Regions from separate parts of the Homo sapiens genome. Here region 2 is linked to region 1. The links come from fine-mapping of genetic effects on gene expression. A gene starts in region 1. The other region holds a variant in brackets. All regions are shown on one strand. Distances are from middle to middle. Region 1 holds the start of BCLAF1 (BCL2 associated transcription factor 1). Region 2 overlaps BCLAF1 (BCL2 associated transcription factor 1).

The links. PIP is the estimated chance that this variant, and not a neighbour inherited with it, causes the effect.
Region 2: its variant is fine-mapped to the expression of BCLAF1 in whole blood (TOPMed, PIP 0.97).

Annotation. Positions count from the first base shown.
Region 1 is chr6:136,282,031-136,297,309 of GRCh38, reverse strand. BCLAF1 (BCL2 associated transcription factor 1) reads left to right here and starts at 7,464. Exons shown (of 13, transcript NM_014739.3): 1 at 7,464-7,597; 2 at 14,623-14,726. It overlaps LOC124901408 (a long non-coding RNA gene), which reads right to left and starts at 7,296. Exons shown (of 4, transcript XR_007059784.1): 1 at 7,153-7,296; 2 at 2,285-2,614. RefSeq lists enhancers at 6,769-6,888, 7,209-7,428, 6,793-7,992, 7,939-8,058, 7,477-8,073 and 2 more.
Region 2 is chr6:136,246,173-136,261,451 of GRCh38, reverse strand. It overlaps BCLAF1 (BCL2 associated transcription factor 1), which reads left to right. Exons shown (of 13, transcript NM_014739.3): 12 at 1-187; 13 at 337-4,825. The coding sequence ends at 342. It overlaps MTFR2 (mitochondrial fission regulator 2), which reads left to right and starts at 11,141. Exons shown (of 8, transcript NM_001099286.3): 1 at 11,141-11,476; 2 at 12,299-12,415. The coding sequence starts at 12,353. RefSeq lists enhancers at 10,672-10,821, 11,472-11,691. The variant A/C (reference allele first, on the strand shown) is at 3,766.

The DNA.
Region 1 (15,279 bases):
TCCCTATGTTGCCCAGGCTGGTCTTGAAGTCCTAGGCTCAAGCCATTCTCCTGCCTTGGCATCCCAAATTGTTGGGATTACAGGTGTGAGCCAATGCGCCAAGCCTCATCCAATAATTCTAAATATAATCTTTTTGCTTTATCTCTTGGCTAGAACTCACCTCTGAACCACGGATGCACACATTTAACTTCATACCTTGCCTCTGTACTTAAAAGTTTCACACACATATCAAGCCTAATATATTCAAAATGGAATTCCTGATTTCCTTCCCTTTTCCCAATCTGTTTCATTCTTCCCTTCCCTATCATTCTCTCTAATCTTTCCAATTATTATAATGGTATCAGGCCGGGCGCTGTGGCTCACACCTGTAATCCCAGCACTTTGGGAGGCCGAGGCGGGTGGATCAAGAGGTCAAGACCATCCTGGCTAACATGGGGAAACCCAGTCTCTACTAAAAATACAAAAATTAGCCGGGCGTGGTGGTGCGCGCCTGTAGTCTCAGCTACTCGGGGGGCTGAGGCAGGAGAATCGCTTGAACCCGGGAAGCGGAGGTTGCAGTGAGCTGAGATCGTGCCACTGCACTCCAGCCTGGCGATAGTGGGAGACTCTGTCTCAAAAAAACCAAAAAAACAAAAAAACAGAAAAAAAAAATCACGGATCATTAGAGAAAAGCAAATAAAAACCACAATGAGATATCATCTCATACCAGTCAGAATGGCTACTCTTAAAAAGTCAAAAAAATACCAGATGCTGGCGAGGTTGTGAAGAAAAAGAAATTCGATATACTGTTGGTGAGAGTGTAAATTAGTTCAGCCATTGTGGAAGGCAGTGTGGTGATTCCTCAAAGATCTAAAAACAGAAATATTTGACCCAGGCAGGGCACAGTGGTTCACACCTGTAATCCCAGCACTCTGGGAGGCCGAGGTGGGTGGATCATGAGGTCAGGAGTTCAAGACCAATATGGTGAAACCCCATCTCTACTAAAAATACAAAAATTAGCCAGGCGTGGTGGTGCGCACCTATAGTCCCAGCTACTCAGGAGGCTGAGGCAGGAGAATCATTTGAACCTGGGAGGCAGAGATTGCAGTGAGCCGAGATCGCGCCACTGCACTCCAGCCTGGGCAACAGAGCGAGACTCCATCTCGAATATAAAAAAGAAAAAAAAAAAAAGAAATATTTGACCCAGCAATGCCATTACTGGGTATATACCCAAATAAATACAAATTGTTCTATTATAAAGAGAACATGCACACATATGTTCATTGCAGCACTAGTCACAGTAGCAAAGACATGGAATCAACCTAAATGTCCATCAGTGATGAACTGGATAAAGAAAATGTGGTACATATACACCACAGAATACTATGCAGCCATAAAAAAATAATGAGATCATGTCTTTTACAGGAACAGGGATGGAGCTGGAGGCCATTATCCCTAGCAAACTAACACAGCAACAGTAAACCAAATACATGTTCTCACTTATAAGTGGGAGCTAAATGATGAGAACACATACATGGACACGCTGAGGGGAAGAACACATGCTAGGGCCTTTAGGAAGGTGAGGGTGGGAGGAGGAAGAGGATGAGTAAAAACAACTAATGGGTACTAGGCTTAATACCTTGGTGATGAAATAACCTTTACAACAACCCCCCAGGATGCAAGTTTACCTGCGTAACAAATCTGCACTTGTACTCCTGAACTTAAAAGTTAAATAAATAAATAGATAAATAAGGTCTCCTTCTTTGATTTTCTATCACGTCCTGATTGATAGTACAATTTGTGTCTGCTTACGTGTGTTCTGTCTCCCTCACAGAGAGGCAGTCTACCTGGGAGCAGTGTCAGCGTTAGGCTTCATCACTGCTCCATCCTGAGCACCTGGCTCAGTACCTACAAATGGCACATGCTTCAGGCATATTTGCTGACTAAATAAACAAATGAATAAATGACGGGTGAAATCCCACTCATTTTTAAAATGCTAGTTCTTTCCCTCTTTCACCATAGGCACTTGCTCCCATGTAGATCTGATGTGAGAGTTACACCCTCTCTCTGCTGGATTTTGAGTTACAACAGAGAAGCAGCAACGATGTCTCATACTGCTTTGTAGTCTGTAACAGTGGTCTCCAACCTTTTTGGAACCAGGGACCGGTTTTGTGGAAGACAATTTTTTCATAGACTGAGGGCGGTAGGATGGTTTTAGGATGATTTAAGTGCATTACATTTATTGTGCATTTTATTTCTACTATTATTATGTTGTAATATATAATGAAATAATTATACAACTCACCATAATGTAGAATCAATGGGAGCCCTGAGCTTGTTTTCCTGCAACTAGATGATCACATGTTGGCATGATGGGAGACAGTGACAGATCATCAGACCTTAGATTCTCACAAGCAGCCTGCAACCTAGATCCCTTGCACTCGCAGTTCACAATAGGGTTCACGCTCCTATGAGTCTAAGGCCACCACTGATGTGACAGGAGGAAGAGCTCAGATGGTAATGCAAGTGATGGGGAGTGGCTGTAAATATACATGAAGCTTCGCTGGACTGATGTTCACCTCCTTCTGTGTGGACTGGTCTGGGAGTTGGAGACCCTTGGTCTGGTCTGTAATATCTAGAATATGACAGGTCTTCAATAAATCAGTGGTTCTAAAACTTTAGTGTGTATCCTTACCCCCACAGATTCTGCCTCAATAAATGTGTAATGAGACTCAGTTCTCTTAAACAACCTAGGTTATTCTCATGAGTTGGCTTCTGTTTTACACTTTAAGAAAACCGGCATTAGGGCTTGTCAATATCAACGGTGACTCCCTCTCCAGGCCAGGCTTAATTCTTAGTTCTTTTAAAATAAGCAATGAGGCTGAAATTTCAGCCTATCTCACTCCTACCTGCAATACTCTATGCTCTGTATTTCACTACTTTTAAATATCATCATTGGTTGCAGCCCTTTGCTTAGGTGATTTTAGCCTTCTGTGAGATAAATTGTCTGGGTAGAACTGAGCTTTCAGACTTTTCAGGGGGCAAACAGAGATATTTGTTGGCAACTGGATAACTGCTTTAAAAGAAGGAGTTGTTCTGTAACTCTTATAACCTCTCCTAAGGAAGAAATGATTTCTGGGTATGAATCCCATCATGATTCTGTTGCCCCATTTTAGGGGGGGTTCCCTCTTTGTTCTTCAATAGTTACATTAAACAGCAAGCTGGCATAATTTCTGGGCAAAGATTTCTTATGAAAACTTTGAAAGAATTTAATGTTCTATTTGTTTTTTCCATCTTTCTGAGAAAGATGCGCATTAATCTTGATAGAACTTAGAAACAATAGTTAACAGTCACATTTTGATATTTTTCTGTTTGTTTGTTTGAGACAGAGTCTCGCTCTGTTGCCCAGGCAGGAGTGCAGTGGCACAATCTTGGCTTACTGTGGCCTCCGCCTCCCAGGCTCAAGCAATCCTCCTAACTCAGCCTCCTGAGTAGCTGGGATTACAAGTGGGAACCACCACACTAGGTTAATATTTAAAATTTTCGGCTGGGCGCGGTGGCTCACGCTTGTAATCCCAGCACTTTGGGAGGCCGAGGCAGGTGGATCACGAGGTCAGGAGTTCAAGACCAGCCTGGCCAAGATGGTAAAACCCTGTCTCTACTAAAAATACAAAAATTAGCTGGGCATGGTGGTGCACGCCTGTAACCCCAGCTACTTGGGAGGCTGAGGCAGAGAACTGCTTGAACCTGGGAGGCGGAGATTGTAGTGAGCCGAGATCCCGCCACTGCACTCCAGCCTGGGCAACAGAGCAAGGCTCCGTCTCAAAAAGAAAAAAACCCAAAACCAAAAAACAACAACAAAAAAATCCAAATATTTAAATTTTTCGAACAGACAAGGTCTCACATATTGCCTAGGTTGGTCTCAAATTCTTGGCTCAAGTGATCCTCCTACCTCAGCCTCCCAAAGTGCTGGGATTATAGGTGTGAGCCACCATACCTGGCTCATTTTGATATTTCAATTTTTTTTCAAAATGGTGAGATGAATATTAAGGAACAACACTGTAAATACATAATTCTTAAATAATTTTGGTAATTTTAAACCAAAATAATTAAAATTGAAAAAATAAAATTAAAATATTTTAAATAAAATAAATAACTCTACATTCTTAGTATGTAAAAGGGGATAGAAAAATAAGGAAAATATCCTAGTCAATTTGTTCACCAGTAGGAATGAAATAGTCTAGACAAGGGGAACCATTTATTTCACTGGTACAGATCTAAAAAAATGCCAGATCATTTGGAAAACTGACCTCATAAATAGGACCTGCTTCTACTCAAAACTGTGACATGGAGTTCAGGGTTCTTAGCAAACAAAAGAAACCAATTCTGATTAACTCATCAGGAAAAGAAATTTACTGGAAGGATACCAGCTAGCTCAAAGAATCAATGAACATTTTATCACTTAAAATTAAAAAAAGAAATTAGCACAAAGCCTGTAGAGGGATATGCACAAATGGAGGCCATGCAGCAGGAACTACAGCCAAAGTCCGGCCCCATCAGCACTCTAGTTAGGGAATCTCTGTTGGTCACGTTTCCTCTGCTGCCTGCTTCCCACTACTACTGTTGGGTTCCCAATGCCAGTATTTTCAGGGAGTGGGAAGAGTGAGACTCCAAATACCACTTCAGCTTCAATTTCCCCAAATACGGAAATAGTTCAGATGTTCCATCTAAAAAGATAAACAAAACAAACCAAGCAAAACCAGTCAGGTCTTGGAGCTTGCCTTCCTGCTAGACTTCCAACCCCATCCTCATTCCTATCTTCTTATCTTTGTCCTTTTCACATATCCATTCTTCTCCATTTCTCTTTTTCCTTTTCTTGTCTCCATTTCTTTTTTCATTTTCTTTCTTTCTTTCTTTCTTTTTGAAATACAGTCTTGATCCGTCGCCTAGGCTGGAGTGCAGTGGTGTGATCTCGGCTTACTGCAACCGCCACCTGCCGGGTCCAAGCGATTCTCCTGCCTCAGCCTCCTAAGTAGCTGGGACTACAAGTGCCCACCACCAAGCCCGGCTAATTTTTGTATTTTTAGAAGAGACGGAGTTTCACCATATTGGCCAGGCAGGTCTCGAACTCCAGACCTCAAGTGATCCGCCCGTGTCGGCTTCCCAAAGTGCTGGGACTACAGGCGTGAGCCACAGCGTCTGGCCCATTTCTCTTTTTCAATTATCTTAAATTAAAATCAAACCAAAACAGAAGCAATATCTTTCAAGAAAGAGTTTTATAATCGTATTAACAATAACTTCTCCATGACCATAAATTAAAATTACCTTGCCGGGCGCGGTGGCTCACGCCTGTAATCCCAACACTTTGGGAGGCTGAGGCGGGCGCATCACTTGAGGCCGGGACTTTGGGACGAGCCTGGCCAACATGGTGAAACACTGTCTCTATTGAAAATACAAACATTAGCTAGGCTTGGTGGCGGGAGCCTGTAACCCCAGCTACCTGGGAGGCTGAGGCAGGAGACTTGCTTGAACCTGGGGGTGCGGAGGTTACAGTGAGCCGAGATCGCGCCACTGCACTCCAGCCTGGGCGACAGAGCGAGACTCTGTTTTTTTTTTTTTTTTAAAATTAAAATCAGCTTACTAATTTATCTCAGCATTCTCTTTGTACCTTTTTAGCAGTTTGGTCATTTGTTTACAACTTGTATTTCTTCTTGAGATAATGTTCTATTTTTCTGCAATGCTCATTTGTTAAATGGGCTCTTTTTTCCTCTGCTCTTTTCGGCGTTTGTATTTTAATAGGAAAAAAATTTATTACAAAGAATGAATCTGTAATGGTGGAATTTCAGGTTTTGAAAATAAGAATGTGCATAAAACATCTAAATTCAAGAACCTCCTACTTTGTAGATTGGGAAAGCATCACGTATCAAATGGATCTATTTCAAGGGAAGTCTGTATAACTTCCACTTACTAAAGGCTTTGTTCCAAAGGATCTCCTTTGTTACTACCTCATGTTATGTAAATAAAATCATAATCAGTTATATTGCCTCAAATAGATACTTCATTTTCAACACATGTGCAATAGAATTGCAGAGGGAGGTCGAAGATAATATCCTAGCCTGCAATTTGGGGTATTTTGAATAAATGAATAACAGCATGTATTGGGAGCGCCCCGACTCCCAATACATGCAGAATAGCAGACGTGTATTGAGCCCTTAGTTGTTTTTTTTTTAAATATAGTTCATTCACTCAACAAATATTTCTGAGAACCTGCGAATGCTTGGGACATCAGGGCACAACAAAAAGGCCAAGGATTTCTGTGTCCACATCCTGAGGTGGTAATGGGGTGAGGGACAGACTGTACAATAAAAAACCTACGATTCACTCCATGAAAATGTTGTCGTTTTTCTAGTTCAGCTGGTAAACTGGACTGTGAAGAAAGAATGCTCTAAGCACAGTGTTAAATTCACAACCAGGGCCCAATCCTAGTTTCGATTCACTCACTGACACCCTGGTTGCTAATTACAAGTCTGAAATCCATCAAGGTAGTTAACATCTCTAAACATCAAAGCAATAGCGGTTTTAGGCCCTAAGAAAGTGCAGCCCGGAGAAGTATTAATGCAAAATGTGCTACGGCTGTTATTTAAATTCTATTCAAATCGAATGTGGCTTGCCTATTTATAATCTGACTTATAATTCTGGACAACCAAGCTACGTTGGGCTGTGTTCCTCGGCTGCCACAAATCATCGTCACAGGCTGAAAGCTCAACTGCTTCGTGCTCTTTATTTTTTCATGCCTATGCCAACGTTGCCGATGTGGTAAAGCTGTCATCACGCCGCCAGAAGGGCGGCCTTCTTTGGCACGAGCAGCCTAAGAGGTTTCCGGCTGCTGCGGCTTGAGCTCCGATTTGATCAGACGCCACGAAAGGGATTTAGATCGTGGCCATTTTTCAACTAAGTGCGTCTGCCGAATTTAATAGCAAACCAAAAGCCACATTTTCTAATCTCCAGTTAGGCGTCCAAGAGGAAAAGTGGCGCTTGCTGGCTGAGGGAGCAGCGTGTCTGCAATTACAGCCACGTCTTGCCTCCTGGTCTTTTCCTCAGTGTGGGATTGTCTTTTTGTTTTTTGCCTGGTCTGAGCCGGCCCCACAGAAAGAACAGACCAGACGAGCTTACTGAGGTAAAACGCAGGGGCGGCGGTGAGGTCTAGGGGGTCTACTCAGAACGAGGCAGAGACACCAGCGAAAAGCGCCGTATGGCGAAGCTAACTCAGGCCTGACAAAACACCCACCCTACTCTACCGCCTCTCCGGCCAAGGCTGACGCTACGGGCCAGAGGGCGGAGCCGTCACATCTTCCCGCGAGACCAGCCACGCGACTTCCCAGAAGGCCGCAGGCAACATCTTAATAGCAGCCAGGAAGCCGGACCGGAGCGGAAGGGTGGGCGGGGCTTGCCCGCATATTTAGCGGCACCCGAGGCCACGCCCCAGATCGGAAGTGACGGAGACGTGCTAGCGCGTCGAAGGTAGCTCTATGGTTTTCCTCGCGTTCTTGAGTCGGGAAATGGCCGCTGTGTGGTTGCAACGGAGATAAATTCCCGGAACCGCGATTCGGCGTGTCAGGTAGGCCTCGCAATGTATTCAAGTTACTCCAGGGGCAGTGAAGACCGAGGACAGGCCATATTTTTGACTCTTTTGTGGGTGGTGTCGGGTTGGCGGCGAAAGGAGAACCAAGGAGACGTTGCGCCGTTATTTATGCGTTTTTTCGTTAGCTTCTCTCAGGTTTTCGAGGCACTACGGGCCGAAAAGGCCGGGCGGGGGCGCTGAGCAGTGCTAACGGCGGGCGCGCGCGTGTTTGCGAACCTGCCTGGAGACCCACAGCCCGCGCGGCCTCCCGTGCGCGTGCGCATATCTTCCTCTTCCACCCTTCCCCCATTTCTTCAGCCCGTACCTCTGCGCGCGCCCGACTGAACGCTCCGCGCACGCGCGCTCGTTCATTTTTCTCTCCCCCGCCTATGGCGCCGACGGCCGCTGGAGGTGCAACTTGTGTCCGCCTCTCATTGGCTGGGACTGCCACCTTTCTTCGTGGCCTGTGGGGTTTTGAGAAAATAACTGTGACCCGCAGCAAAGTGCGTTGAGTAGGTCTACCCCTTTTCGCGTGGTCTTTAAAACTGCCCTCCGGCTTCAGACCACCCGTCAGTTAATGCCTCGTTTTTGTGATGCTACTAGGTTTTAGTGCTCTGTTCTGCCTCTCGCTGCTGACCCTGGTTCTCTGGAGTTAATTTCGGTACCCGCGGCAACCTGCTGTTTTGAAGCGAGCGCGCGCTGTTGACTGGTGCTGGTTGCCTAGTTACGGTTCCCTAGCGAGAGGATTGGGTCTTAGCTGGTGGTTCTGAGCGTGGCCCTGCCCCATCCGGCTGAAAGTGCGGTTCTTCATGAGTACTAGCGAAGCCGAGTCTTTTCAAGTGATTCAGCCCATTTAGTCGTGTCAGAAATGTTGCAGCCACGATTGGTGGACAGCTGGTGTGAGAAATGGGTGGGAGTGGCGAATTGGACTTTGCCTTCATTTTAAATTCATGAGTTGGCTTGATTCGCTTTTAAGATTTATTTCTTCAGAATCAAGCTGAAGTACCAGCAGCTACTTTGCTACCTCAGACTTTTTTAAAAAGCATTTTAGAACTGGAAACAAATTAAGACTGAAGTTGAAAGCAAGTGTGGCTAACACTGACGAAAAAGATGAGCTACTTCAGACTTGTACCTCACTGCAACAGCCTCTTTTAAATTTTTTGGTGTTACAAAGCAAAACAAAATTTCTTGTTCCTCTTGTGAATTCTCATTTCAGTTCGACTTTAGTTGGAATGGTTAGGATACTGTTCAGGCAGTAAATAACCTTTACGTAGGAAAAACTGCTACAAGGCTTTTGTATTTTTGTTTGATCATGACCAATTCAGGATAGGTAATTTGATGGGAGGGAAAAAGTGGCCCCTCGGCGGGAGTTTGAGGCTGCTGTGAGCTGTGCTCGTCCCACTGCACTCCAGCGGGGGCAACAGAGCGAGACCTTGTCACTTAAAAAAGGTAGCTCATGGTAAACAACCTTGGAGCACCTTCTCTTAGTGATTTCATGTTTCAACCAGTACATTGTGGTGAATACTGAAATATCTTGTTTAATTCAGATAATTAAAATGGTGGCAAAGGAAGCTGTTTAGCCAGAGCCCTTCTTGACTTTGAGGAACAGTGGTAGTATAAGACTTGAAGACAGACGTGTAAAAAGTACTACTCACTGGTAGGCTCAGGTCTGGTTGATTGACTGATTCTTGAGACGGAATGTCGCTCTGTCGCCTAGGCAGGAGTGCAGTGGCCCAGTCTCGGCTCACTGCAGCCTCCGTCTCCGGGTCCAAGCGATTCTCCTGCCTCAGCCTCCCGAGTAGCTGGGACTACAGGCGCCCGCCACCACACCGGGCTAATTTTTGTATTTTTAGTAGAGACGGAGTTTCACAATATTGGTCTCGAACTCCTGACCTCAGGTGATCCACTCGCCTGGCCCACCCAAAGTGCTGGGATTACAGGGATGAGCCCCTGCGCCTGGCCTCGGTTGAATTTATTAAACAACTTTTGTGGGCAGCAAGCTGTACGAGGTTAACTATGTGATGAGAAGACTTAGAAATGGAGAAAAGTTTTATCAGTTCTACATAGGACTTAGTTTGGGAGTTTCTGGAAACTACGTTGGAAATCAGTAGTTGCACACTAGCTGAATTCAGCTGTGTAATTTACAGTGATTTGTTATTTACCAAATAAGTAGAAGAGGGAATTAAGAAGCTAAAATCTCTGGGTACTTGTTTGATATGAATTTGTTAATTGTTTATACTCAGGTAATAAGTGTTACCTCAGTCATAGCATTTAATATTTTATCTGACTGTCCCTAAGGCTGAAAACCAACGAATATACTAACACGAAGATAATACTAGATTATATTTGTGTAATATTTTAGAGTTTTCAAACACTTTAATTTTATTTATTTATTTTTTTGAGACAGAGACTCGCTCTGTAGCCCGGGCTGGAGTGCAGTGGCGCCATCTCGGCTCACTGCAACCTCCGCTTCCCTGGTTCAAGCGATTCTCGTATCTCAGCCTCCCAAGTAGCTGGGACTACAGGCGCCGGCCCGCCACCATGTCCTGCTAATTTTTTTTTTTTTTCTTGAGACACAGTCTTGCTCTGTCGCCAAGGCTGGTGTGCAGTGGCGTGATCTTGGCTGACTGCAACCTCTGCCTCCCAGGTTGAAGTGATTCTTGTGCTTCAGCCTCCCCAGTAGCTGGGATTACATGGGATTACAGGTGCACACCACAAAGGCCGGCTAGTTTTTCTGTTTTTGAGATGGAGTCTTGCTCTGTCACCCAGGCTGGAGTGCAGTGGCATGATCATGGCTCACTGCAACCTCCACCTCATGGGTTCAAGCGATTCTCCTGCCTCAGCCTCCAGAGTAACTGGGATTACAGGCGCCTGCCACCACGCCCGTCTAATTTTTATATTTTTAGTAGAGACGGGGTTTTGGCATGTTGGCCAGGCTGGTCTCGAACTCCTGACCTCGGGTGATCCGCCCGCCTCGCCCTCCCAAAGTGTTGGGATTACAGGTGTAAGCCACCGCACCCAGCCCATTTTATTAAGCATGTCTAGAAAGACTTCTAAATGATGCTGATTAATGCTGTATCAAAAATATTAGGTAACCTTACATGCAAGAATCATTTTAAGTAAACGTGGTTAGCTTGCAGAAAGGCTGCCTAAACAAGGGTTACCAATAATGATGGCTAATGCTAGATTGTATACCACGGGCCAAACATTAAACTAAGCTGTTTACATGCCTTACTTAGTTCATTTAACCCTGTACTTGTAAGGAAGTACCATTAGTAGTCTTTAAAACAACAACAACAAAAAAACACCTGCAGAATTTGAAGCTGACAGATGAAGGTAACTTGTTCAGTGTTGGGCAGCTAGTTAATGGCTGAGCCAGGAATTGAATCTAGACTACTGGAATAATAGTCATGGGCTATATTTTTAGGATTTGAAAAGATGGAAATAGCATTACTTTGTTTACAACAATCTGGGGACCAAACTCCTTGAGCCTGCTAAAATGAAGACTGGGATCAAGTATGCTTGAAATAGTAATCTTAAAGAATTCATTTTGGGTGGCTTTGTCTTGGGTATTTTGTTGAACCCAGTTACCTTGATCATTTTTTTTCTTTTTTTGAGACAGCCTCTCTCTTGCCCAGCCTGGAGTGCAGTGGTGCAATCTTGGCTCACTGCAACCTCCGCCTCCTGGGTTCAAGTGATTCTCCTGCCTCAGCCTCTGGAGTACCTTGGGACTATGGGCGTGCACCACCACGCCTGGCTGATTTTTGTATTTTTAGTAGAGACGGGGTTTCACCATGTTGGCCAGGCTGGTCTCAAACTCCTAACCTCAGGATCCGCTCACCTCGGCCTCCCAAAGTGCTGGGATTACAGGCGTGAGCCACCATTCCTGGCCTGATAAATTGTTTTCTAGCTGGTTTCTGATCACTTATGTTCTAGCTGGTCATTATGTATTATTTCATGAAAGATAGGCTCTGTTTAGATATTTAAGAACCTTATTTTTAAAAATAAAACCTGCTTTATTTTATCCTGTGTTCCTCATTGGTTGGTCTGTCAATTGGCTAAAGATACATATGGCAATTTATTCCTTATTTCTGTATACAAGTGGGAATCTATTAACAAATGATCTTGGTTGTAATAAAGGGAAGATTAATTTGGCATTTTCAGTTTTGTATTTGGGTTTTGGAAACATCAAGCACCTTTTAGGGTATTGAAGAGAGAGCACCGGATTTGGAGTCAGGAGATTTCAGTCAAATTTTGGATTAACCATTTACACTCCGACTGTGGGCACGAAAAACGGCAAACACATCTTTTGTTTTCTCCCCCAAACTTGTCCTCCCAGATGCTTGAATCTAAAACCTAGAATTTAAGGGCACTAGTGATTTTTCATTTTTCCTCACTCTCTGTACTTCACACCCCTAACAATCCATTAACAAGTCATTTTGACAAACCACATCTTGGATTTGCCTCTTTTTTTCATTGCTGTTTATTTTTTATATAGCAGCCATCTTAAAATGTAAATCAGATGAGTGACTCACCCAAGCAAAAACCCTGCAAGGGTTTCTCAACCGAGTAAAATCCTGATCCCTTTTGATGATCTACTAGATGCTATTTCATCTGGTCCATTCCTCCTCCTGCTGCCCTATTTCATACCCTCAACTCCTTGATCACGTTGTCTCAACCTTCTTATTGGTCTTTCTGTCCTGAATTTGCTAAGTTTGTGTCCTCTGCCTAGTATGGTCTTCCCTCTGTGAATCTTTGCAGTGTTCCCTGTCTTTAGGCCCAAATGTTACCTCCTTAAAGAGGGCCCAAGGATCCACCTAAGTAAGTAGTCCCCCTGCCCACCTCCTCTGCATGTTAACTTGTACTTTTCCCCCCCCTCCAATGTGGCACTTGCCACTATTTGATTTTTTCCTTGTTTTCTGTCTTCCCCTCTCTGAAAGCTTCAAGAGAGTAGGGAGCTTAAGTCTTAACTTAAAATGCTGTATTCCCAACGTTAGAATAGTAGTGCCTGGCATGTAAGGCACTTATCTCAAGTTATCTGGAAAGTTTAGGGTTCTCTGTATTTGAAAGATGGGATTAATATGTAGCTCATGAGATTATCAGGATCAAATATGACATTATTTTATTTACTTTAAGTCACCTAGCACAGTTCTTGGCACATGGTTGGTATTTAGATGTTTAGTTTACTATGATTTGTTGCTGATAACTGTTCTCGATTTGGTTTTTGGAAGGCAGGGACCACTTACATAGATACATTTCCTATAGTAATTAGCATTGTGCTTTGTATATAGACTTTCATTTTTTAAAAATTAGTTGAACTAATCAGTCTTTGATACTGACTTATTTATTGTGTGTTACATTTTGTGTATTATTTGAGTTATTGGTGTGGATACTTGAATATATTTATAGATTGTGAACAGGAATGTATATCCACTGGTCTAACAGCCTGTATTCCCTGTTCTGTCAGTTTTTTATATCTAGTGTTTATTTTCTTTGAACTTCAAAATACCATGACGGAGTAAAGAGATCTGGCAGTTGGGTCTTCTCTGGATATATATATATATATATATATATATATACACACACACACACATATATATGTATATATATATATAAATTAGCCTTTTGGAATTGTTTAGGGAAGTGTTAGCTAAAATGAGCCTTGTACCACTTCTAGGAGTGAATCAGTAGTAATGACTTTCCAGGTCAGAATAGTTTTATGACAGTACTCCAGTTTAGAAGATTGCCATTTTTTTCTCTGGCCACTTGGGGTTTTGATATTTTAAAAACTAAACTTATATGTCCTTTAGAAATCCTTTGTTTTTGTACCCAATCTTGCTTGGCTTTTTGACTTTGCTACTTTTTTAGTGTTTCCCTTAATAGGTTCCGATTCCTCCTTCCTAGGCTGAACCTCAAATCTCTCCCCAGTTGGAGGGCCATGGATATTTTAGGAGACGCTATTCTTGATTCACCAGTTTAATGTTACCATTTCTTCTTTGTATTTCCAGTCTCGTTTTATTTTTAAAATTGGATCTTGGTAAGAGTTACAGATTTCCATTTAAACTTGTTCATGAATTCTTTGAGTGCTGATGTATATTAATCTTGTATTCCTTAGTTTCTGTTCGCCTGGTGCTTTTGACTATCCTTTGCACATACTTGATGTGAATATACATAAAGCTAAACTTTTCAGTATTGGTAACTTGAATATTTTGTGCAAAGTTTATTTACAGATTAATGATAAATTATTTTAGGAAGAATATTGACTTTCAGTAGATAAAAGTTTCATTGCTGACTGTTCTTTTATTTGAATGTAGACGTATCAAGATGCTTTTAGGCACAGAATTTAAAGTTACTATGATGGCTGTTAACGTGGATTTAAAAATCAGTTTCACATGAAACTAAATTGTGTGAAAGGAAGTACCAAAAGAGAATAAGTAGCAGAGCATTAAACTCATATTTTAGATGTTATAAAGTAGAGCATTATGAAAATTAACTACAGATTACCTTTTTTTTTTTTTTTTTTTTTTTTTTGAGATGGGGTCGTGCTGTGTTGCCAAGGCTAGAGTGTGTTGCCAAGGCTAGTCACAGGTGTGATCACAGTGCATTGCAGTGTCAAACTCCTGGGCTCAAGTGATCCTTCTGCATCAGCCTCCCAAGTAGCTGGGACTACAGGCTTGTGCTACCTTGCCCCGCTACCAAGATGGCATTATGTTAGCTACGTTGGAATTTTCTGATGGAACGACATATCATATGTTTTTTAAGGCTCAAATTACTAAAATTAGAATTCAAGTAGTTAAAAAGATGCTGTCAGTTTCATGATACGCTACTGCATTGTGGTTTACAAAAAAGTTGAATTTTAAGCTTTTACGGTTAAAAGTTTCCTATTTCCTGAATTAGTTTTTCCTTCCCTGAAATTGTAAGTGCGTTTATTAGAGTTTATGGCAGTGCCCATTATATGCATTGTAAATAATGGTTATTTAATTTAACATAAATCACAATAATGGTTTTTTTGTCTTTGCTAGGAATTCGAATTTAGAGTTTAATTTCTCAGAGCATTCTCTCCAGGAAGAATTTTTACAGTATCTCAAAGACTTCACTTGACTTCTTGATCCTGCATAAAACCAAGGTAAAAGAGCATTCATTTTTCTAGTTTTCACTTTTGACTTTTTTGAGGAAATGTCACTACTGAATTGATGATTCAGATGGAGTGATTAAAAATGATGTGGTCCGAAGCTTTGTTTTTTGTTTATTTTGGTGGCTTGTATGAAGTAAGTCAGATGTTAAGTTAGTTTTAGGAAAAAGGTTCTTTTTCTGTCTTCTTCCAGGTTGTGCTCCTGCTTTTTCTATTTCTATAAACACATCTACTAAAAGACTCAGGACATACAAGATAGAAAGACTGCTACTTAACCCATTTCCCTAATGTAAACAAGAGGAGATTCATAACTTGTTTCTCTCTACTGTAGTGTTTAGGTAATTCAAATTGATTGCTAATGTGTTAGATGTATTAAGTGAATTAAGTTCATCAACTCATTAAGTCCACTACAAGTCTGTGAAGTAGGTACTGTTATTTTCTTCGTTTTACAGTTGAGGAACAGGCTCAGAGAGCTTAAGGAATTTGAATTCATGTAGTTTAAATGCAGAGACCATGTTCTTAGCTTTTTCCCTGTTTTTGCAGTAGA
Region 2 (15,279 bases), 36 kb after region 1:
TTATTGGGCCAAAAGAGGAAGAGGTCGTGGTACTTTTCAACGTGGCAGAGGGCGCTTTAACTTCAAAAAATCAGGTAGCAGTCCTAAATGGACTCATGACAAATACCAAGGGGATGGGATTGTTGAAGATGAAGAAGAGACCATGGAAAATAATGAAGAAAAGAAGGACAGACGCAAGGAAGAAAAGGTATAAAATTTCAACTTGTGATTCTGACAGATTTTTTTTGATATAGGTTTGGTGGGTGAATTATTTCATTTTTAGGAACAATTATTAATATGGTTCCTTTTCACTCTCCGCATCTTTTGTTAATCTTTAATTTTTTCTCTCTCTTTTAGGAATAATAAATATGAAGTAAGATTACAACAGAGCAGAACTTGCACCCACCATTTTTTTTACCTGATTTTTGTTTTCAAATAAGAATGTAAGCATTTTACTTAAATTTTACTGTTTGCAAGTAGTCTATAGAAATTTTGTTTTAAGTCTTCAAATATCTTGAGAAATAGTAGACTGTATGTTGAAAATTGTACTGAAATAAAGTAGAAAATTGTTACGTACCATATTTGTAACTATCAACTTTTAAAACTTTTAACGTTTTTGTTACATGCATTGTAATTCTGCTTTGTCTATAAGATATGGTCAAGTACAGCTCTGTGAAAGTTCTGATTCTCTTCCTTCCCTGTTTGTCAATGTTTTATTCTGAAGTAAACGTTAGCTCTACATATAAATCCTGGAACAGAAATTGTTTATAGAGACTACACTAATTATTTTAACTGTATACATCTGTTTAATTTGAACACACTACATCGTAGGGTGACTGATTTTTGAAGTATACCACAGACAAAAAGTTGTTACTATGGTAAACTAAGCTAGTTTAACACTTGAGCAAATGCTTAAGAAGGAATTAAAAAAAAAAAGCTTTGCCAATAGCTAAAAAGTACAAGCTATTAAAAATCAGATTGAAAAGTTTTGAGAAAATGTTATTTTTACTGAAAGCAAGCAGTGGCCTATAAAGAACATTCTTAGGAGCCTTTTCTATTTGCGTTCAAAACTGTGTGTTCTCTTTCTATTCCTATTTGATAGTTTGAGTCATGGTCTTAGATATTAGCTATTTGTGAGAGGAAACTGGTTTGTAACAATACTGCAAATAGAAACCCCATTTCTACTGAACATCCTAGTTTTAAACAGAAGAAAAACTGTAATCCTGGGGTTGGTATGTAGGAGGTCTATCCTGCAGAATAAGTTGATACATTAGTACCTGATTTCATATCTTACATATTTATTTGAGCTGAACATTAGTTTGTAGTGTAACTATTAGTAAAAATAGAGAAACACAGCATACTGTTCATTAATAGTATTTTAAAAAAATTGTTTTTCAAATGTCACCAATAAAAGTTTTGGCAGGAAGCTTGTTGCGGCATTGATCTAACCTTTTTCCCCCCCATTTCAGTTGCAGTTTTTGTAGAATGGCTTTTTCTTTTTCCTCTTAAGAGTTCTATTCTTCAGGTAGATAATTTTTCAAATGTGAATTATCTTTTGTGTCTATATTGATAGCTCTTAAAGGAGTGAAAATCTAAAATAGTAAATTTCAATGTTAAGTGTCTGCTTTATGGGCATATATAAAAGTAGACACATTTCATTTGTTAATTTAGTTGTGTGTGTGTGTTAAAAGGAGCTAATGCTTATTCTGTTAATGTAAACTTTTGAAGATCTTAAGTGTATTGCTCTTTCATCTTAAACACTTTCGAGGATTTGCAGTGCGTCTAGCACCTAGATTACAGCCAGGAACATTGGTTAAGAACTGTTGGAAACAAAACTAAAAGCAAACTCAACATATGTGATGTTTATGGCCCTCAGATCCTTAGTATTGTGTGATTTTCCCCCGTTAACATGTCTTTCTAAAATTGTCTATTAAAGCAGAGGAAATACCTGCCAAAGGAAGTATGTATTGCATTAATCAGGGCATAACTAATATTCTCCTGTTCAGAATAATACTTATTTACGTGTGAAAGCAACATGGATGTGATTCCCAACACAGAATTTTCATGACCCTTTTATTGTATACAAATAAATACCATAACAGTTACTTGGTTAGACATCAAATCTGTGTGCATGACTATGTGCTTATCCACTTAAGACAATAGGTAAAAGGGGATCTGAGAAATTATGTAATAGGGAGTGGGAATAAAACTACTTAATTCCTGTGGGCAGGTTATATTTTAAGTTCAAATGCATTGCTTTAACCTTTGGTTACTTTTATTCTGTTAAACAGAATTGAAGAAAGAGTATTATACCAGAGTGTAGTAGGCTAGGGTGATTGTAAGAACTCTGTAATAGAATGTCATTGTGGATGTTACCTTTTTCAGATCCAAGCATATAAAAAGCCTGTATATTTTTTAAAAACACATCTTAACTCCACGCTTTACGATATTATAAAAGTTGAATGGTTCCTCTTGGTAAGGATATTTGCTTACAAGTGCTAGGAAATAACTCACTGATACCTGCGTTAACATACTTTGTTTTGCCTAGAGAGGGGCAATAAAAATGAACCAAAGGATATTTCCAGAAAGGATTAAGAAAGCTGTTTAAGAAGGCCATGACTCTTTAGGTGTGTATGTGTACCTTTCAGCATCCTAGGAATTTTTATACTAAAAGCAAAATGTTTTTTCCAGTTAGTCTTCTTCAAGGAATTACTATTGTTCCTTTTGTCACAGGTAAAATCAGTGTTGGGAATTATAATTTGAGAAAAATATTACCCAGTAACATTGAATGTAGATGGCTAAACGATTCTTACTCAGTGTGATGTATAATGATGCAACAGGGACCCTTGTAAATTGTCATACGCCAATAAAATGTCACAAGTAATAACTGCTGTTGTTTGTTTACCTGTGTCTATTTCACACATCTTATTTCTGTGGCCTATTTTAGAATATCAGCGCATCTGTTAGGAAGATTACTGGTGTGGTAAGGCTTGATAAATGCTTTATAAACTCCCTCAAACCTTTCTTTACTGTTTTTTTGTTTTGTCTTGTTTTTGTTTTTGTTTTTGTTTTTGTTTTTGTTTTTGTTTTTCCCTTGTCTCCCCTGGGAAAATGGGAAATTTTACAGTTGGTAAATCTAAGCCAAAATTATTTTGAAATAAAGGAATTCTGGATGTCCAGTTTAGTCCTCGTTTTCTTACGTTAATCTGGGACCTTATCACCCATAATATGGTGATTACTTCTCTTTCTAAAAACATAGTAGCTAGTAAATAAGTAAAAAGAATTGTCTTTTCATTCACTTTAAGTAAGATGTGGTATAATTCTTACCATGTGCCATCCTGTCAGTTTTAACAAAGCATTTTCACAGAAATTTGTGTACTAAGACAAACTGACACATTTTGACTCATACAAATGGCAAATTAGTCCTTAAAAATTCTGTGAGAGAAATAACTCTGTGTGTACATACATATGCATGTAAAGTGTTGTGTAAGATCATTGGTAGCTTAATTATACTGGATAATTGTAATGTTATATACAAATTTCTTATATAAAAGTATGCTGCATTATTAACATTTGTTTAACTTTTCTTATTTTTCTTTTTCTGGGTTTCAACTGGAATCCCATTGGTGGGGATGTACCTTAAGTTTCCTTGTGGAATAATAGACTTTCACATCCAGAAAGAGAAGTTCAGAGGCCTTTCTCAATTTACAGAGTTGAAGAGGAAAGGCAAATGGAGGAATAAACTTCATTGTCATTGGGATTAATTTGGCTAGACTCAATCTCTTG[A/C]GCCTTAAAATGAGAAAGTAATATCCATTACATGTTTAGAGTTCTCAAATAGTTGATACTATTATTAAATGTTTCAAATTTTATTGGGGTAGATACTAAAAATTAGTACACTGTCCTAATGAAGTTTAAATGAACAAGTTTTACATTTCTTAGGATTCAGGAATATATGGAATCTAGTTGTATTTAATTGACTTGAGAGCCACAGAGATTGTGTTGATTTATGAGCTGGACTCCTATTGTTTTAGAAACATGCAGTAATGATTAACTTGTGTCAATGATGGTAATGAGACCAAACTTGTACATTTAATTAAGGGTACCAGTTCTTTTTATGTTACTAGACTATACCTTGGCCTTTAAAAATGAATCTCACTGATTAAAGAGAACAGGCATTATTAGGATAGCATTCCACCACAACTAGAAACATTCAAATAATGTGTCTTAATTGTAATCTGTATATAGGAAAATTTTTCCTATGGATATTTTTGGTGTTTTACCACAGTGAACTGATTTGTAGCACTTATGAAGTGCAGAAGGTAATATTCTTGAAAATAGAAAAAGGTTGGGTGAGCAGGCTTTAATGCCTTTCCCCCAAGAATATACATCGAATTTTTCTTAATCTTTTGGGGTTGGCCAGCTTCCAGATTTCATTAATAATGAGCTCTGCCTTTAATAAAAGTACATGATCATAGCTACACTGTATGTTTAGGTGGTGTGAAATGATTTATAATCACAGCTTGAACTGTGTTTGCTTGGTACTGTCATAGTGATTACAAATTTCATGGAATGCGAAGAGCAACAATAAATAAAAAATACCACTCACCCTCCAGAATAGTGGATTATTTGCTACCTTGAGTCCTTCACTATGGAAAATAATTTTTCAGTCTCATTTGTACTAGAAGGGAAAACTAAACTTTCTGTTGAGTTCTCAGGATACTTGTAAGGTGGCCGTGAAAAAGAATGTTAAATGCACTTTGAATTATTTATTTATTTATTTATTTATTTATTTATTTATTTATTGAGATGGAGTCTTACCCAGACTAGAGTGCAGTGGCTCGAGCTCGGCTCACTGCAACCTCCGCCTCCCAGGTGCAAGCGATTCTCCTACCTCAGCTTACTGAGTAGCTGGTATTACAGGTGTGCACCACCACACCCAGCTAATTTTTGTATTTTTAGTAGAGACGGGGTTTCACTATGTTGGCCAGGCTAGTCTAATTCTCGGCCTCCCAAAGTGCTGGGATTATAGGCGTGAGCCACTGTGCCTGGCCAGAATTTTTAAATTTTAATTTACTTCTCACATATCCAGCCTGCAGGTTTAATTTATTTTTTATTTTTTACCTTACCAAAAGATTTCCCCACTCCAGAATTGTTTTTGGAAGAAGTTGAATATCATTACCAAATGTACTTTAAAAAAAGATAGGCCTGTGTGTGGTGGCTCACGCCTGTAATTCCAGCACTTTGGGAGTCTGAGACGGACAGATCACCCGAGGTCAGGAGTTCGAGACCAGCCTGGCCAACATGGCGAAACCCCGCCTCTACTAAAAATACAAAAATTAGCTGGGCTGATGGCACTTGCCTGTAATCCCAGCTACTCGGGAGGTTTAGGCACCACAATCACTTGAACCTGGGAGGTGGAGGCTGCAGTGAGCGGAGATGATGCCACTGCACTCCAGCCTGGGTGACAGAGCTAGGCTCTGTCTCAAAAAAAAAAAGATTACAGTAATTAACTGATTAATGTCAGCATACTATTCAAATGGCTTGAAGATACAGACTTGTAGAGTAATACCACCTCAGCATATAACTGAGGAATCAGATTTTTGAGTAATCGTGTTCAGATACTGCAGTAAGGGGATTTGTCAGCTGGGAGAAATGACTTAAAACTTAATTTGTACTTTTAATTGGAAAATGGGATGTAAAAGTCATGAAAGTCTGATAGAACTTGGAGTGAAAAATCGATGGCTGCTTATTTAAAAGGAAAAAATTAACAGTTCCATTCATGACTTACTGGAAAACTAAAACACATTGTTTTTGGAGTCCTTTCTAGATTTCAAAGTATACTTCTTTCCCTTGATATAACCTTAAGATAATCTTCCATATTTATATAAACATGAATATTTGTCCTTTACAAAAGATAAGGTTCAGTTAACAGAACTGAGTTATATAAAATGATTCTGGAATCTTAGCTTTTAGTATGTAAAGCTCTAGTTGAGGTGTGGGGAGGTCAGAGAATTGGGGGAAAAATAGCATATGGCTTCTCATGTTACAGATTTAGCTGTCTGGCCCACTCAGGACAATATTACATCTTGATTTTGTTCTGTATTCTCAACTTGGGCAACACTTTAGGAAATAAGTATTTGGCTAGTCTGTCACTAAAGGAAAAAGATTCAGAGCTTGAATTGGCCAATAGTAGCTACATGAAAAAGGGAAATAAGGTATGCAATTTTCAGTGTCAAATGAAACCACTTCTGGGAAGCATAACTATTCCTGCTACCAAATATTGAGATACTTGTCCTTAGGTTTTCATTTAGATGTTGCTGTTCCTAGAATAAGTCTTCCTAGAATAGGAACAGGTTTTCAAATGAGTGTTTCTTGCAACATTTTTTTCTGGTGGCTGAGGGCATGATGCCAGAGTGTAACAGTAATAATAAGAGGCCTTAAAACCATCTTATCTGAATATGGTAGTGCTCCAGGTATTAGGAATATCTAGCAGAGTAATTGGATTAGGATGTATATTCTTAAAGCAACTGTTCACATGGATATAACTTGCAGTTTTAAAGTTCTATGTTTCACTAGTTAAGTATGAGCTAGGCACTAGAGCAGCAACAAGATAAGGCTCTGTCCTTTTCTCATTTTTATTCTTGCACTATAATATGTGAAAATATTTTCTTGCATTATATAATATATTCATAGGCTCTAGTTTTTGAATGAGCTAGCTCCAAATAATGGGGTATTAATATGCAAATCAGGATTCTTGTAATAACTCTTTGATACTTTTGAGGATCAAGTTCTCTGTCTCTCATTCAGAGTTCATCTATTTAGACTTGCCTCTTTCCTAAACACTGGGAAGCCTAAAAATTTTAGACACATGGTATGTTGACTTTTTTTAACATAATTTTTTGGTATCCTGGACAAATGTGAGTCCTGCACTGTGTTACACTGAGGGAATAAGTTGAAAATGAGATGTATTGATACAACAAAGCAGGTAAGGAGCAGATCCTTTATGGAGAAATTTCAAAAATAGTTCTCAAACAACACTGCCCAGTAATAAATTTCATATATATAACAGCAACAGTCTGTTTTGAATGTACCGTTTGCAGAAGCCCTGTGATAGTCTCAGTCGCCATTAAGGAAAAGGACAGCAGAACTAAAGTTAAAATACCCTAGTGGGTTGAAAAGTCAAGGTAAGTCCCACCTGGCTAAGTAATGTTTAGGAGTATCACTGCATAACCGAACAACACAATATCATAGTGTTAATCCTAAGTCATAAAAGATTAGTTGGAAATGTGTGGTTATATTTAATAAAAATTTTGATGAAAAAGCTTTAAGGTGTGACAGCTGTCTAAAGGGTTAAATATCCATCTGAGAAAATCTAATACCTCAGAATCCCCTGATAATGCCAACCCAGTGCTAAATTGTTTAAAGCTCATCAAGGAATATGACTGCCTTACATAAGAGGGATTTTAGACAAAAATGGATCATCTCCTGAGCTAATAAGAGTTTCTGGCATAAGGTATTATGTATAGTAGGATAAGGTGTAGGAGAAAAGTGTAAGTGATCAAACTAAACCTCTCAGTGCTAATTATTGTCTTTTTTTTTTTTTTTCGCGACAGAGTCTAGCTCTGTCGCCAGGCTGGAGTGCAGTGGCACAATCTTGGCTCACTGCAACCTCCACCTCCCGGGTTCAAGTGATTCTCCTGCCTCAGCCTCCCAAATAACTGGGACTACACGCGCTGGCCACCACGGCAGGCTAATTTTTATATTTTTAGTAGAGACGGTTTCACCGTGTTGGCTAGGATGGTCTTGATCTCTTGACCTCATGATCCACCCGCCTCAGCCTTCCTAAGTGCTGGGATTACAGGCGTGAGCCACTGCGCCCGGCCTAATTATTCATTTTCAATGTCGAACTTTCCTCACATTATTTTAAATACCACTTTTATTCAAAATTTCCAAGCTTACCATTATACAAAGTTCTCTTGCCATTTTAAACCATTTGAATATTCCAGATATTCCAAAGGATAAAAGATAACAACCTATTGTTTAAAAGGAAGTAGAAAGGCAATACAGATTTCAGATGAAGCCCTGAAAGTAATTGGAACAGCCATAAAGAGTTTTCATGGTGCTGTCATATTTCAGGTTAGTGTGAAACATGTTCTAGCACTTCAAATCCAGCATTTCACAGCTACTGTCTCTGGCTAAGTTTACAAAGGGGGGGGGAGGGAAGCAAAAATTAGTAAATAATAGTAAATAACATTGGTATGTGGAAGGAACAAGGATGGAAGTACTTTGTGAATGACAGGTTTTCAAACATTTTTATCTAGATGCTGGTAACTCTGAAATTTACCTCTTAAACTTCTCTCCTGAACTCCATTTTTTCTCTCCAACTCTTCCCTGGATAGTTCTGCTGGAACTTAAACACTCCAAACTGTCATCATCTGTACCCCATCCTACTGCAAACTTATGTTCTTTATCCATTAAGCTAGTTGGACATCCCTATAAAGTGTTCTGTCTTCTCTCCACTGCCGCCCCGCCGTCCCCCCTCAACCCCCAATAATAGATGCTCATCACTATCCCTAGCTGCTGCATTGGTCTCTTAGCTTGGACTCTACCCATAAATTTCATCTTTATATTGCCATCTCTGGGATGTTTTTCAAGTGCAAAATTACAGTCATTTTAAAACCAAAATTTACGCATTGATGTCTTCCTGTTGTCTGAACCTCAGTCATGATGAGCTGTAGGAACTCCCTATGTACTGTTTTTGGCCACTTTGCCTTATGCTACTCCTTGTTCACTTACCTATCTTAAGTCTTACACCCTAGCAAAAAATTTCCAATTCCTCTTTTTGCTCAGGGGCCACTGAATGCAGCACATACCTTTAGGCTAGTAATTCATTCCATTTACATGTCTCCACCAGAATAAAATTTTAGCATTTAGTATTGTGCATGGCATACATACTGTAGTTATGTAATAAATGGTCCTTGAGTGTGTATAAATGAAAGAATGATAATTGCGTATTTATAAAGGCTTGATTTAATTTTATGTCTGCTGCTGCTGCTTGAAACAAATACAATCTGGGCTGTCTTAAAAATTGCTGGGATTACAGGCGTGAGCCACCGCTCCCAGCCAAGATAGGTTCTTGATTGCTGTGTTCAAATCCTTAAAAGGCTTTGCTAGAGAAGAGACATGTTCAAATCACATAGGATCAGGAGACTGGTATTTGATACTTGTCCGATCTCCTCATTTTAACATGTTACATATTTAAAGGACAGAAATCAGAGTCAGTAGGTAAAAAATCTTAGGGACATAGACTTACTAGCTCAATATAGTGAGCTAATTCAATATAATGAGCTAATACTTGACAACTAGATACTTTAAAAAGTGTTAACATGCAGCTTGTGAATAGCAAGTTTTCTACCTGGATCAAACTGGGGGAGGGGAACACAGGAAAACTCCAGAAAGCAAGCCACTATATTTTTGAACACTACTCAGAGACAACAGAAAAGCTAGCTTTGTGATGTCAGAAAAGCTTTCTTGGACCCTATCTCATTCTAAGAGTTCAGGAAAATCTAATTTCGTGTAAAAATGAGCAATGGAAAAAGATGTCCAATCACATAAAATGTTTTTGTCAAAATGGAATTATGAATGCTTTAGTAAACTGGAAGAAATATCTCTGAAGAATTTAGAAGAAAGTTGTCAGCAAAGCATTTATGGATGTAGTATTTGACCTGGGTCCTCCTTGCTACTTAAATCAGTTGGAATATTAACCTATGTTAATAGTGCAGCTGGAAGAGTAGTGGTTCCGTTCTCATTCTGGAGGGATGTTTTCATTCTGGCCCTGTCTGTTTGCTGTTTGATAAGAGAGTGGGAAAGGGAGGGGGTTATAAAGTCGTGATTTATTCACAAGGGCAAAGGGAAGGACAAGGAACTTGAGAAAATTACTCCATCTAGGGTTTCTGATCCATCATCATCCTTGTTCTGCGCTCACTCAGCCGTATCCAGCTCTACTGGGCATATCACTATTATTGCTATCAATTGTTTTGCTAGTTGCTTAGTCCCAAATCATTATCATCTTTTCTGTCATTCCACATTTAGGTATTTTATTCAACAAATAGACTGAATGCCTATTATATACCAGACACTCTTCTAAAGCACTGGGGAAAGATAGAGCATGGATCAAAACAACTTCCTGTTCTCCTGGAGTCTACAATTTTGTTTGGTGGTAGTGGAAGCGTAACTAAATATATATGATAAGTGCTATAGAGAAAAGCAAATTAGGGTTAGAATGGAACGAGATGCCCCGCTGGCCTGTAAGCTCCAGGAGGACGAGGACCTGCCCTCTCATTAAGGTATTTTCCGTGCTTAGAATGGTGTCTGCTACGTAGTAGATATCTATTATTGGTTGAATGAATAAGTGATGTTGACCATAGATAAATTAGTTCAAAACTTAGATTTTCAAATTATGTCAGTAGCAGGCACACATCTTAAATTGTTATATCACTCCAGTGCACGTCTTGCTGAAATTCAGAAGAGGAAGCTATTTCGTATGAAGCCAATAACCTCAAATCAGAAATGAAAACTGGGATATCACCTGTCATATCACTTGCCATCCTCGGCTAAGCCAGGAGAGTGTCCGGCCCAATATTCGGTAGCCTGGATACGTAGGTGTATTTAGTGAACGAAAGAATGAATCCTAGCCACTGCAAAGCTGCAAAACCCTCGGGGGTAGTGCTTGGCTTCTGCCAGTTCCACAAGTATTTTAATATTAGCTGAACAAATGAAATGACCAAAAAATAAATCGCGATTTTGTGTCAGATGAACTTGGGAAGGCGGATGCGCTTAGGGTCCGGCTGTAGCGAGTAAGACACTCCCTGCGAAGAGTTCTGTGGGGTACGAACTCCGGACTGCGAGTCCAGCTCACGAGTTTGTACCTAAAACCTTGCCCTGCGGGAGCGACGCTGTCCTAACGCGACCTGCCCTGCCCGTCAGCTCCTATTGGCTGACTCTCGGAAGACCCGCCTCTTGAGAAGGAAAAGCAGTCGCTTCCCGAATTGCCTGACATCATGCAATGACCAATCAGAAGCAGCGATCTTCAGTTTTGCCCAATGAGGCTGGTTACGGGTCCTGGCCCGCGGAGTTTGATTTCGTCCTGGGATGCGGAAGTAGCAGTCCTGTCATGCGGAAGTAGCAGTCCGGTCCTAGGGACTAGCAGGTGGGTTGGTTGGGCGCAGGAGGACGGGGGCGCGCTTCCCATAACATTACCCTGGCTGAGCGTGAGGCTCCAGGGCTGGGCACCGGGTTGACCTCTTATTCCTCGCTGAGGGCATCGTTACCGCCTGTGGCTGCAAGCCGAGGCGCGCGGGTGGAAACTGGGTCGAGGTCTGGGTAGACGTCTGAGCGATCTGCACAAGGAGTGGCGCAGTCTGGAATTTGATTGAGGATTCCTAACGCCCTCCGCTTGATGTTCTGGTGATTCCCGGGGGCTCGGCTTCGGAGGAAGGTGAGCAAGGCTACCACGCTGTGTTTGGAGAGCACCAGGAAGCTTGTGACCAAAGCGAGGGACGCGATCCGGCTCTGGTCACGGCCTGTTACTAGATGGGTGACCAAGTCACGTCCCGTATCTGGAATTCATGCTTCTCATTTTAAAAGAGTGAGGAGGGATGGGCATTCCACATGGCTGGGGAGGCCTCACAATCATTGCTGAAGGCAAATGAGTAGCAAAGTCACATTTTACATGGTGGCAGGCAAGAGGGCTTGTGCAGGGGAACTCCTGTTGATAAAACCATCACATCTCATGAGACTTATTCACTACCACGAGCATAGTATGGGGGAAGCTGCCCCCATGATTCAGTTATCTTCACCTGGCCCCACCCTTGACACGTGAGGATATGTGTGTGAGAAGAGCTACTGTTTATTTTTTTAAAAACTGAGTCGTCCCTTGCCTGCTTTCAAGGGTTGGCTAAACTCACCCATCTGCTAAGAGTCTCAGCCCAAAGCTTTCAGGAAAGAGCGAGCTTCGCTGTGGCATGTAACTTGAAGCCTTGCCTACTAAGTAGATGTCCAGTTTGTTGATTGGTCTCTATTAACTAGGCTCAAACATCCTACGAGGTTTTAATGTAATCTAACCAATTAATTGAAATTTCCTTTACAACCCTCTCTTTCCCCCAGACTTCCCCTTCCTTTCTTTTTCTCTGACTTAAAAGAATGCTGGCTAGGAGAAATTAGTTGACTGTGTCGTGTATCAAGAGGACTTTTCCAGGTTATGTAGTACAATTTGGCATTTATTTGTCAAGAGTAACATTTTCTAAAATTTTCCCCAAAGGCACCAAGAAACTGATAATGTTCCTTTGAATTGGCTTCTGTATTTGCTTCATCAATGTCTCTCATACTGAATATCTTAAGAGAGATGCTGGAATATTTTGGCGTTCCTGTAGAACAGGTAAATGTCGTTTTGGATTGGAATGGATCTGTTGTATTTGTTCTTGGGTTTCATTTTGAAAATGACTTATATGTAATCATTTGATTTAAGGCAAAGTTGTTGCTTCTTTTTAGTTGGAACAAAGGTGAGTTTGTAATAGTATAGCTTTGATGATTTGAGTTAGAAGAGGGATAAGATTATTGAGAACATATTTACCTGATAGGACAAATGCCAACAGAAGATACAAAGGAAGCAAAATATAGACATGAGCTTCACAGAATTACATTTATTGCACAGATACATTAAAACTTCTATTCAAGGTAATTTATAAACAAGTTCAATATTTAAAGCTCAATAAATCCAGAATAAATCTAATGGAAAGAGGATGATTTAGGCCTGAGAATTATAAGCTGTATTAGTCTGTTCTCATGCTGCTAATAAAGACATACCGGAGACTGGGTAATTTATAAAGGAAAGAGGTTTAATTGACTCACAGTTCCACATGGCTGGGGAGGCCTCACAATCATTGCTGAAGGCAAATGAGTAGCAAAGTCACATTTTACATGGTGGCAGGCAAGAGAGCTTGTGCAGGGGAACTCCTGTTTATAAAACCATCACATCTCATGAGACTTATTCACTACCACGAGCATAGTATGGGAGAAGCTGCCCCCATGATTCAGTTATCTTCACCTGGCCCCACCCTTGACACGTGAGGATAATTACAATTCAAGGTGAGATTTGGGTGGGGACACAGCCAAACCATATCATAAGCAAATCAAATTTTATCTACTTGTTGAAAATCTGCTGTATCTAAGACAATATGCTTGTTTCTGCAGGTAATACAGAGGAGTAATACATGGTTGTATTCATAATGCTTAAAATATGAGGAATAAGAAACAATAAAGATAACTGTAATATGAGATTGTAAGGAAGACGGGTGGGGTGAATTAGAAGAAAGTAGTCAAGGATAATTTAAGATTTTTTTAAAGCAAAAGTAAGTTGAAGAATCATAGTACCATTATTATAAATGGGCATCTTAGTATGAGAAACTAGTTTGAATATGGAGATGAGGTGAGTCAGAGGTGATGTTAGAACATATAAGTAGAAATATCCTTCAGACAATTGGATATATATATGGTTTTAGTATGTAGGAAAGAAAAAGATTCAGTTTTGGGAGTTATCTGCTTTGTTTTGATATTTAAAGCCATGGACTTCGATAATGGCAAATGTCATTAGATGTGATTGAAACATTCTAAATATCAGTAATCGAGAGACTGAAGATAACAGCTGAACATTTGTTTATCACTATTAGGTTATTGGTGACCTTAAGAATTTCTGTAAGTGGAGAATGGGACTGTGTTGGAGTAGTTTGAAGAATATCAGGAAGGGAGGTGGGATCAGCAACCTTCTTTTGAAAAGTTTGCTTGTGAAAAGAAATTGAGAGAGGCCATCAGCCTGAAGGGGCCGCAGGATGGAATTTTTCTTTTTCTTTTAAAGTTAGAAGTAACTTCAGCATATTTGTCATCACTCTGGAAGAAACAGACAGGAAGAAATTTAAGATCCACATGAGAGAGGATTGAGCACCGCCTTTGAGAAGGTAGTTGGGCAAGGGATCTAATTAAATAAGTCTTGGAAAGGAGAGAGACTGTCCTGCCTTAAAGAACAGAATGAAAGTGAGAGAGAGTGAAAAGAGATTTTTTTTTTTTTTAAGATGGAGTCTTGCTCTGTTGCCCAGGCTGGAGTGCAGTGGTGCAATCTTGGCTCACTGCAACCTCTGCTCCGAGGTTCAAGTGATTCTCCTGCCCCAGCCTCCCGCGTAGCTGGGATTACAGGAGCCTGCCACCAATGCCCAACTGATTTTTATATTTTTAGTAGAGATGGGGTTTTACCACGTTGGCCAGGCTGGTCTTGAATTCCTAACCTCAAGTGATCCACCTGCCTTGGCCTTCCGAAGTGCTGGGATTACAGGCGTGAGCCCCTGCGCCTGGCCTGAAAAGAGATTTTGAATGGAGCTAAGTAAGAGAAGTGAAGTTGAGGTATGTCAAGTTGAAGTTCTCGGTTTTCTCAGTAAGAGCAGAGACAAGGTCACTTGCAGGTAATGAAGTGGTGGGATTTGAGAAGGGATTTCAGAGATTGGAGACTGCTCTGGGCAATGTGGTATAGAATGTAACATGTTATGAAGGGATTTCAGAATACCTGTGAGAACCCAGCTGAAGTCATCATGGAATTGTAGTTTTTCTAAATATTGTCGTTTTGTGATTTTTTTTTCCTAGCTAAGAGTAATTACAGTAGTGTATTCATTAGCAGTGTGGGAGCACATAATATCAAAAGAATGAACCATTTTTGAGTGGCATTGAACATATTACTGAAATAATTAACCAGAAAATCCATGCTTGGTAGGAAAATTAGTAAAGTCAAAATGTGGGTACTAGACCAGGAATAGAGGGAAGATGAAATAATAAGAATGGTGAAGATGGCCAGATGTGGTGGGTCGCCCCTGTAATCCCAACACTGTGGGAGGCTGAGGCAGGCATATCACTTGAGCTCAGGTTTTCAAGACCAGCTTGGGCAACATGATGAAACCTCGTCTCTATAAAAAATATAAAAATTAACCAGGCATGGTTGTGTGCACCTGTGGTCCCAGCTACTCCAGAGGCTGAGGTAGGAGGATTGCTTGAGCCTGGGAGGTGGAGGTTGCAGTGAACCCTGATCATGCCCTGCACTCCAGCCTGGGTGACAGAGTGAGACCCCATCTCAAAAAAAAAACCTCAAAAAGCAAACAACAACAACAACGAAAATGGTGAAGATGGCCAGGGGCAATGAAGGAATGAGAGGAAGGACAAGAGTTTATTAGGATGGAAACTGCCGAGCAAGATAGGAAGGTA